2 separate regions of the Homo sapiens genome follow, and region 2 is linked to region 1. Evidence: fine-mapped expression QTL. A gene starts in region 1. The other region holds a variant in brackets. All regions are shown on one strand. Distances are from middle to middle.

Region 1 (5,375 bases):
CACTGCAGAGTCTCCAGGACAGGAAGGTGCTGAACAATTGCTACAGAATTTTCCAGAAACAAATCTATGTTTGCCCATTTTTCAACCAAGACAAATGTCTGGCTTAGCCTTCCTTAAACAACAAGGGAGAGCAGCCATGTAAATGATGGGACTGTAGCAAGCCAGCACTTTGAGTAAGATCTCAGACATCTCAGGGTCGGACGCATTCTACAATGAGTGGCAACACCAAACCGCAGCGACTCCTCAGAAAAAGTTCCAAACTAGGTTGTTTGCAGAAAGTCAAAGGCCCCAGAAATTGTCATTCATTCTCCTGCCTCCCTCTTGACACCACTTCTTCCCACAAACCCCTTAGGATGCCCTGCATTAGGCCCAGGACTCACCTACCCTGGGGTGAAACTGCCTCCAGTGGAAATCAGAGAACAAATGAGAGCAGATAGGAGGTAAGAGTTACACACAGGGAACCCAGTGTTTAACCCTTCCACTGAGTCATGGAATTGAATCAGTGGCAAACCCACAGAAAACCATGGAGCTCAGAGGTGGACTGTGAATCCGCAGGTGGGCTGGACCACGGGAAGCTGGTCATAAAGGGGGACAGCAGAAAGTGCATCCAAAAAGCATAGAGGAAGCAACGAGTCGCTCGGATGAGATGGAGAAAGACGGAGAGGACTCTGGGGAGGAACATCAACTTTTAATTATTTTTACCATCATTGTAATCAAAGCATCTTTCCCAGCCCCGTATCCCCATGACCACCACACTGAAAGGAAAAAGAAAGAGGACACCAGGGCTAAACCCAAACAATGTGGATGAGAAGTCCTCTAAATCAGGCTCTGGCGGTCTGAAAGAGGAGCCAAGGAAAGTCAGGGAGGTTCAGAAGGCTCAAGGTACAAAGGTCAGAAGGGAAATCAGAAATTCAAAACTGATCCGAGGAAATCACCCAACATCAGGCTGAACAAGAACAACACATGAAAGCCAGTTTCACATATTACAGATGGCTGAACAAATGAACATCATCCCAAAGCAAACATCTCATAAGCAGTTCACAAAAACGACCAAGGACTTGATATCCTTTAATCAAAAACAGGATGTATGTTTCTGAGCCAATGAATACCAAGGTATTTACGTGGGTCTTTCTCAGGCCTTATCTTTTAACAATTATGCCAAATACACATCACTAAAAACTGCTACAGGCATAAAAATCGGGGGCTAAAATTCGTCAGAGGTTTTTCTCAAGTCTGAGGCACACATCCAAAGATTCCTGAACTTTGTAACCACTATAATCGCAATAGAACATTATCTGACAGTAACTCGCAAGCACAAGCACCACCTGTCAGTGACTCTTTAAGTGAATCGAAGGAAAATGGGCTCTGAATTAAGCTGCTGAAGACGAGAAATATTTTTAACCTAAAACTCTCTTATCTAAAACAATGTCAGCCCCTTTACAATTAGGAATTTTAATCTAATTTGGGGGAGGGGGTACTCTGAGAAAGAAGAAGTCATTAGTCCTTGCTAAAAAATGCAAAACTACAGGAACACATTATCTGAAGTGAGAAATATATTCCTTGATAAGGCAGTGTATCAAGAGCTCAGAATTTCGTCAGAAACACAAAAGCCTGCCCTTTCCAAGTGCAGGCAGTAATCATTATTATTTCCAGGACAACTGCTTACTGCACAGCTTAAGTTTTGAAGCACACTTAGCAGAAAAATCCACCCCCACCTAGAATACTTACAACAGATTTCTCAAAATTGTCCAAGGAATTACAGAAATCTATTTCCTGGGGATTGCTGGAAGTCTACAAGCCAAGCATGACTATTTTTAACTAACCTGCAAACAGTGGATTATATACTTAATGAGCGCCTGCATCCCTTTGCAAGGTGCAAGCAATTATTGGAGAGACCTCCTTCCCAAAAGAAAAGGGTTCCGCTATCAACACAGGAGAAACTGTGTTGATATTTGGGAAGCCGACACGCGGATTGCCTAAAACTCTCTAGCCATTTCATGCAGTTAAGACAAAGTGGACACTCAACAGAGAGCCCAAAATACCAGGGACTTTGCCACCCTGAAACGTGTTCTAATGATACATTTCCCGTTTAAGGTGTCCTAAACACACATCTTTCTCTAAATAAAGCGTGCCTGCGGGACCACTAGGAAGGTTCTACAACTTGTCCAAAAAGAAGAGGCGATTGCTCCTTTTTTTTTCTTCCCCGCCCAAAGTGCCTTCCCGAAAGACAGATTTCTGACAGTTCGCCTACTGTTGCAGCAGTAAAGGGCCGGTGTTGCCAATACCTCTCCACCGCCACCTGGGCAGGTGTGGGTCCCGTCCCGCCGCCCCGCTCCTCCAGAAACCTCCGCGGACGCCCCGCCGCCGAGCGCTTACCCGGGTCGGCCTGGCCGTGCTCCAGGAGGGCCGCCAGCAGCAGAAGTCCCAGCAGCAGCGTCGGTGGCCGCGGGGGCGCATCGTGGGACGCGCCGGCCCCGGGGCCCCTCACACCCGTGCAGCGCGCGGCTCCCCAGGCAGCCCGACCAAGCCCACGCGCCACGGGCCGGCCCCCGCGCCCCCGCGTCGCGGGCCCAGCTTCCCTTGAGCCCTGAGGCTTGGCCTCCTGCGGAGCCATGGGGACGCTTCACACATCCAGGCCGCTGCCTCGCTCTGCACCGCGCCGGGGAGCCCAGCCCTCGGCGCCCCGGTCCTCACCGGGCATCGCCGGCCACGGCCCGGGCGCCGGAGGGAGGGGGCGCCGAGCGGCGCGACTGGCTCGCTCGTCCTGCCGCGCCCGGGGCGGGCTCCAGGGAGCCGCGGCTTCACCCGCGCAGGGGCCGGGCCCGCATGGAGCCGCGGCGGGTGCGGGCCGGGGTTCCCACGGTGCCTGTCGCCGCGCGCCGGCGCGATTGGGGCGGCGAGGGTGGGACGGGCGCCGCCCGGGGCCCCCTCCCCCGGGCCGGCTCCTGCAGAACTAGGGGGCGAGGCTGCCGGGAACGGGGGTGGCGGCCGCGGGGCGCGCTCGGGTCCCTCCCTCCCGCCGCCGCTGCAGCCTCGGCGCCCCGCTGTCCTGGCTCCTCGCTCCTCGCTCCTCGCTGGGCTTCGGGTTCCAGCCCCGGCTCCGGCTCGGGTTCCCGGGCCGCGAGTGCTACCGCAGCTCAGAGCGGCGCCTCATTGACAAAGAAAGCACGTAGCCTCCGGAACGGGCGAGGAGGCGAGGAGGCGAGGCCGGCGCGCGCGCGCAGCCCCGCGCGGAGCCACCGCGCGCTCCCCGCTCCCGCGCGCCCGGCCGGGCTCGAGACCCAGGAGGGGGACCCCTCCCGGCGGCTCCCGCGCAGCGGAGGTCCTTAAGGGGAGGGCTTCCCTCCCCTCCTGTCCCCCATCTAGAGAAGGGAAGGTTGGCGGGAGAGAGGTCGTCTGGCCGGGGAGGGGGGTCATGGTCAACGTGCCCAAGCGGCAGGAAAGCTCTTCCGCCTGGATTTTGGAAAAGCTCTTTGTAGAAGGGCGGGCGCGCTTTGTGCTGTTTGTTCACTACTTCTCCGAGGGTTCAACGGACAGCTGCATGCCAGTTTACCCCTGAGGAGCTCAAGCGGCTGTGGGCTAGTTGCAATAACACGCTGGATTAAAACACATTATAAATATTTGTTGCAGCCACACTACGTGCAAAGCATTACACTGCGCACTGGGAAGACTGGGGGAAGTTTTTCCAAAAAAGTCTACACCCCCAAACAGGAGAGTCAGGCAGCTCCTGCTCAGAGGGACAAAAGGCCCAGGCGTCACCTGAGTTGGTCCCCTGCTCTTCGCCCTTGCTAGCCTTGATGGCCTTAGCAAGTGACCTGGCTCATAGGCGCCTCATCCATCCCCAGTCACTGAGTATCTATTACGGGCCCGCTGTTTGCCAGCATCTGTGTTAGGCACTGAGGATACAAGCAGCGGGGAAACACACACATCCTTGACCCGGTAAAGCTCAGACGCTATTCACTCAACAATCCTTACTGACTGCCTGCGATGTGCCAATGACAACAGCCATAAACAAAATCCCTGCCCTCCTGGAGCTGACATTCTAGTGGGGGTTCACCCGCAATAAACAAATAAGTAATAGAATATTAGACTGGTAAATGCCGTAAAGAAAAATCAGTGTAAAAGAATGAAACGTGGGGAGGGGGTGTTGCAAATGTTAAACATTGTGAAGAAAGGCCTCGCTGAGAAGGTGACGTTTGAGCCAAGATCTGAAGGAGGTGAGAACAAGCCATGCGCGAAGAGCATTCCAGATACAGGGAACCAAAAAGGCTAACATCCCGGGGCAGAGCGTGCCTGGTGTGTTAGGGCACAGCAACTTAACCAGGGGATCTGGAAAAGTGTTAGGTTCTAGTTATTGAGCATCTGCAGGATAGAAATAACACCACATTTCATCTAAGACACATACTTTTCACATGTTAACTTTTCAGAAGTCAGATGTGTTCTTATAATATGTCTAAGATTTGTTGAAATATAGTAATGCCTTGTTGGGGGTTATGATTTAATTTTGTTCTTTAATTAAACTAGTTGGGCTGTTTTGGGTTGTGTTAAGAAACTTGCAGTCTGGCCTGGCGCAGTGGCTCACGCCTGTAATACCAGCACTTTAGGAGGCCAAGGCAGGCGAATCACCTGAGGTCAGGAGTTTGAGACCAGCCTGGCCAACATGGTGAAACCCTGTCTCTACTAAAAATACAAAAATTTGCCAGGTGTGGTGGTGCATGCCTGTAATCCCAGCTACTTGGGAGGCTGAGGCAGGAGAATTGCTTCAACCTGGAAGGCAGAGGTTGCAGTGAGCCAAGATTGCACCACTGCACTCCAGCCTGGGCAACAGAGGGAGACTCCTTCAAAAGAAAGAGAGAGAGGGAGAGAGAGAGGGAGGGAGGGAGGAAGGGAAAGATGCAGTCTAGTTGAAGAGATAAAGCAATTCACTAAATTAGTTGGAGACACTGTGAGAAAGCCAGCCCATGGTCATGGTTCAGGCAGCATCACAAGATGAACGGCCCTGCAGCCGGTGGTGATCCCACGGACAAGGCGATGGGGAATGAGGATGTCAGGCAAAGAAGAACTGAAACAAGGGCAGGGTATAGACTCGCTTAGGTGTTGCAGAAAAGGGAGCCCCTGGAGAGAGAAGTGGGCGGAGCAGAGGCAGGGAAGGAGGCAGGAAGATTGGTCTTGGAGCAGTGGGCCTGCCTGTTTGAGACCCAGAACTCTTATGCTGAGGCCAAGTTGTGAAAGGCCTTGGACACATCTGAAGGAGAGGGAGAGGGGAAGATAAGTCACTCTCAGGAGCACCAATCCTGTATCAGGCTCTGAGTTAAGAGCTCCGGAGAACACACAGGTGGATGTGATGGGGGAAAACACGAACCCTTTAGTAGCCA
Region 2 (5,375 bases), 140 kb before region 1:
TCCCAAAATGCTGAGATTACAGACATGAGCCACTGCACCAGGCTGAGATGTTACTTTTTAAAAACAAAACACTCAATGCAAGGTTTCTGAATGCCAGTTCAAACTTCAATCCTTGATGCAAAGTTTTCACCCAACCAAGACAAAACAAGAAAAAACAATTACGAGAGAGGGGGAGAGAGAGGGAGTGTGTGTGTGTGTGTGTGTGTGTGTGTGTGTGTGTGTGTGTGTGTGTGTGTGTGTTGGGGGTGGGGGGTGTATGTCCACCAATTGCCTTTCTGGGTCTAATGGATAATCCTCCATTTTAGTGTCAATATTTCCTTTGTTTTCTAAACAATAATGACAGCATGTGTAGCTATTGTTTTGTTAATGCCCTTACTTGACCAAATGAGAAGTTAGTAAATCTAAACTGAGCTTCTGAAATTTTTCATTTCACTGGTCCATGAGCTCATAGAGCTCCAAGTCTGAAAATCAATGAACTACCTTTTTTTTTTTGAAGAAGGCATTATGTTAAGTGAAATAAGCCAGACACAGAAAGACAAATATTGCACAAGCTCACTTATATGTGCAATCTAACATAGCCAAACTCACAGAAACAGAGAGTAGAATAGTGGTTACTAGGGGCTGTTGAGGGAGAGAAATGGGGAAGTGTTGGTCAAAGGGTATACAATATTTCAGTTATACAAAATAAATAAGATCTGGAGATCTACTGTATAGCATAGGGCCCATGATTCACAACACTGTATTGTATGCTTAAAAATTCGCTAGATCTTTATGTTATGTGCTCTTACCACAAAAGGAAAAAAAAGGAAGGGAGAAGAAACTTTGGGAGATAGTGGATAAGTTCAGGGCATGGATAGTGATGATGGTTTGATGGTTTCATGGTATACCTATTTCCAAACACATCAAGTTATACACATTCAATATCTGCAACTTTTTGTATGTCAGTCATTCCTTAGTAAAGTTGTTAAAAAAAAAAAAAAAAGATGGCGACCCGATATTTCCTTTGATAGGTAAGTATCATAGAGAAGGATATTTCGTACCTCTTACTGCTGGGGTCGGGGAGGCAAAGAGGAAATGTGAGGAGGGCACCAGAGTGGCAGCCTCCACAGAACATTCTGGCATTAAAGGTTGTGAGGGGCTTGTCTGAATGGCCAAGGACAAACTGCCTAAATGAAGACTTTTTAAATGATGGAAAATGCTCTCCTTCTCTGATGTACCCCCCTCTAAAGAAAGAACAGTTGTTCTGAGGTCAGAATTTTATATAGCTTGTGATTTTACACCCTTCTTGTTCAGTATCATTATATATGCACAGCTTCTTGAAGTTAAAAACATAAACTACTACCTACCCTCAAGATGAATAACAAACAATTCTATCTCCTACCCTGAAGTAATTGTTAACACTATTATTTTCACAGTAAATAATTGTTACAGCCATTTGCTGGTGAAATAGTGACATGTTTTGTTGACTTCTTACAAATACCAAGAGAAATCAAATGCTTCTTGTAGCACATTGGTTAAGTTGCTAATTACTTGTATTTGAGCTTGAAATCCTGGCTCTTCTCAAAAATAAAAATAAGTTATGACAAATATATATCACTGGAGCATATAGAAATCAACATTTCTATTATAGAGTCTTCCTTAAAATCTACTCTCTCAAAAAAAATGGATTGAAATATTGAATAATTTAACACTAAATTAATTTCAGTAGGGTAAATCTGTTGGCTAGATCACTTGCAGGGTAGTGATACACATCTTTATTCAGAATTCTGAGTATTTAACTGGTTATTTTTCATGCTAACCTACATTAGACAGTTCTCATGTTCAAAACATCCAGTCTATTTAAGATTGGATTCCCCAAGAAAATGTGCTACACATGTGAAAATGAGTACAGGTTGAGCATCCCAAATCCAAAAATCCAAAAATACAAAATCTGAAATGCTCCAAAATCCAAAAGTCTTTGAGTGTCAATGTGATACTCATAGGATATGCTCAATGGAGCATTTTGGATTTCAGATTTCCAGATTTGGGATACTCGATAAGTGTAATGTAAATATTCCCAAATCAAAACATATCTGAAACCTGAAACACTTCTATTCCCAAGCATTTCAGATAAGGAATACTCAACCTGTAATTTAAATCAATGCCAGAAGAACTATTAGGGGAAAATAAAATTTAATAACCAAAGTTAGATTTTACAGCTTTAATGGCAACTTTAGAACATTTTAATAGCACAAAAGAATAAAACAGACTTTATAATATCATAGCAAGTAGAAAGCAAAATAGTAACTTTATTCTATGAATTAAAAAGTCACAGTATGACATAGTTCTTAGGTTTACAGCCACTATACAAGGGACAAAGCCAGAGCCAACTTTCCTTGAAAAGCAATTAAAAGAACAGATGAACACAAAGTAGTCTCCAATATGTAGTTGACTCTGCTGTGATTTTATCTATTTCAATGAACTCAAAGAGAAAGTTAATGTATAGTACAGGATCATACTCAAGGGAAAGAGGGAAAACATCACACAATGGGCCAGGGGATCTGGATTCTGCTTGCAATTCCCCGACATGCTCCCATTTACATGTAAAGCAAATCACTTTATCTAAGCCTCAGTTTCCCAATTGTAGCATGAGAAGCTGAAATCCAATCAAGAACTTGCTAATTTAGCATGTTTTAAAACAAGAAATTTTTTCAGTAGTTTTACCACTGTAGACATAGATTAATCTTGCCCAAGAAAAAAATTTTCCCTTTGCTATGTCTTTTTTTTTTTTTTTTTTTTTTTTTTTTGAGACAGAGTCTTGCTCTGTTGCTCAGGCTGGAGTGCAATGGTGTAATCTCAGCTCACTGCAACCTCTGCCTCCTGGGTTCAAGCAATTATCTGCCTCAGCCTCCCTAGTAGCTGGGGTTACAGGTGCCCACCACCACACCTGGCTAATTTTTGTATTTTGAGTAGAGATGGGGTTTCACCATCTTGGCCAGGCTGGTCTTGAACTCCTGGCCTCATGATCCACCGACTTCAGCCTCCCAAAGTGCTAGGATTACAGGTGTGAGCCACCGCGCCTGCCTGCAATGTCTTTTAAGTTTCTTAATCTCTAAGTTCTCCCCTTCCACTCCTTTTGCTCCTGAAGAAGAGCCTGAGCCCTTTTACCTGC[A/G]GAGTTTCCCACAGTCTGGACTGTGGTGATACACATTCATGACTCATTTCAACATGTTCCTCTGTCCTCTGTATTTCCTAAAAATGGGTGGTTGATTCCAGAAATAGAAGCATTTATGTCCTCGCTTTTATTAACTTATAACATTTTGAAATTGGAATTAAACATTAATAATAATGACATAAAGGAGTTTAATTCAGTCTATATGAACCCAACTCTTCCTCATTTGCTTAGGGCACTACCCCTTTCCAAGGGGGAATAAGGCATAATGGCCACATTCTCTATCAACACCAAGGATTCTTTTTACTAGAAAGCCAACTCTAGGCTCATATGCACTCAGGATATGGATATTACCCTAGGTATGATCTTGGCAAGTTTCCCTTCATCTTTATGTTTGCATTAGTCTCCTTTCTTCCCAGACCTACAGCTCCCCCAGCTACAGAGGCGTTACATAAGGTAGACCTGCCACAGGGTGGCTGCCATTGTTAACTACTCCAGGAGGCAGCCCTTCAGCAGAAATAATAGAAATATGCTGCCTTAGAAGTGTGAACCCATCTATCTTGGGGAAATGAACTCCAGAAGGTGAATTTAAAAACAGCATCTTAGCAGGAAAGGCGGAAAGGGAGAGACATACCCTAGCATCGTCATCGAGGAAACAATTCTGCCACCAGCCATTACAGCTGCATCATCTGCAAAAATGAGTGTTCTATAGGCAGAGCAGATGTTCCAAAGCTGTGTCATTTGTAAAAATAAATGAGAAACGTGAATTGAAGATGCGACCTCACTCAATATCATCTTTGAGAGTAATAGCAATTAGGCACATTGAATATAATTAGAGCTGAGAATGCAAGGATCTTTCTTCAGTCTAAATATAACTACAGAAAACATATTTTCAAAAAGTAAAATAACTCTCACTGTTGCCTGCCACCACACAGTTGCAAAGTGAGCCAGTCTAATTCTGGGGAGCTTAGACAAATGTGGCTGATTCCATACCTTTGCTAAAAAAAAAGTTGCCAATTCTTCAGCCATAGGAGAAATTAAAGGTTGGATTGGTCAGAAAGAAAACAGGTGTTTTTTGTTTGTTTGTTTGTTTTAAGACTGAATAATTAGGAAGAAAAAGGCAGAGGAGGGAATTTATTTTTTCCCTCATAACTTCAGAGAATTAGGAATAATGGCTTCACATATCCATCCCTGTAAGGAAGATAGGAGTAAGAAAAGTTGGTAGACTTCTGGGCCTCAACTTCTTGCTCAGATATAGCTGTGGTAATTTGGTTGCTCAGATTTCTCGCTCAGATATAGCTGATCACATCTCAAGAATCACCTCCAGGCCGGGCGCGGTGGCTCACGCCTGTAATCCCAGCACTTTGGGAGGCCGAGGCGGGCGGATCACGAGGTCAGGAGATCGAGACCATCCTGGCTAACACGGTGAAACCCCGTCTCTACTAAAAATACAAAAAATTAGCCGGGCGTAGTGGCGGGCGCCTGTAGTCCCAGCTACTCGGGAGGCTGAGGCAGGAGAATGGCGTGAACCCGAGAGGCGGAGCTTGCAGTGAGCCGAGATTGCGCCACTGCACTCCAGCCTGGGCGACAGAGCGAGACTCCGTCTCAAAAAAAAAAAAAAAAAAAAAAAAAAAAAAGAATCACCTCCAGCTGATTGGTAGTGGCTGCCTAGACTGTTATGAAGAATTCTAAGCACAGTCCTGGATTGGCAGGGAAGGGTTCTGGGATCAATTAGCAATGTCTGCCTTGGGTGCTGTAGTACAGAATGGCAGCATGAATTTGGACAGATGTTTAGCATCTCTGGGGAAGGTGATCTCTGAGGTTTCTTCTAGCATCTGGTCCAACTGCATTCAATTTCAGATGAAGCTAGGACCAATAATGCTTGAGTGACTTGCCAAAGGTCTAGCACCAGAACTAGAGGATTCCCTCTAATAGTGTTCTTGCTACCAACAGATGCATCACGTTACTTTTCTGGAGCACTGACTCAGAGATAGAGGAGGTAAAATGAAGCAAGGAGAAGCAAAGGGAGGAGGTTAAAGACTGATTGAGAAACCAAATGAAAAAGAGGAAAAGATCAGCAGGATTGACAGAGATGGGCCAGAAAACAGACTTGTATCCCACGCTGCAGTTGCTATGCAAAGTAACCATTTCCACACCTGATGAATCAAAGATACTCATGATTCCCTTGCTGACGATTTCCTGCTCACCACCCACGTGGGGAAACCTA

Direction of the effects. Alleles are on the strand shown, and positions count from the first base shown. SD is a standard deviation of normalised expression in the study named.
As copies of G replace A in region 2, the expression in sun-exposed skin of the gene that starts at base 3,158 in region 1 goes up (small effect, 0.21 SD a copy in GTEx).

The links. PIP is the estimated chance that this variant, and not a neighbour inherited with it, causes the effect.
Region 2: its variant is the best candidate, but not a certain one, in a credible set for the expression of KIAA1549L in sun-exposed skin (GTEx, PIP 0.70).

The regions. Positions count from the first base shown.
Region 1 is chr11:33,373,891-33,379,265 of GRCh38, reverse strand. It overlaps KIAA1549L (KIAA1549 like), which reads right to left and starts at 3,158. Exons shown (of 21, transcript NM_012194.3): 1 at 2,377-3,158. The coding sequence starts at 2,614. RefSeq lists silencers at 2,293-2,572, 2,703-2,802, 2,943-3,182, 3,213-3,272.
Region 2 is chr11:33,515,550-33,520,924 of GRCh38, reverse strand. The region is part of intron 1 of KIAA1549L (KIAA1549 like); the gene reads right to left. Among named protein-coding and RNA genes, the nearest start is that of KIAA1549L, 140 kb to the right of the region's middle. The variant A/G (reference allele first, on the strand shown) is at 3,152.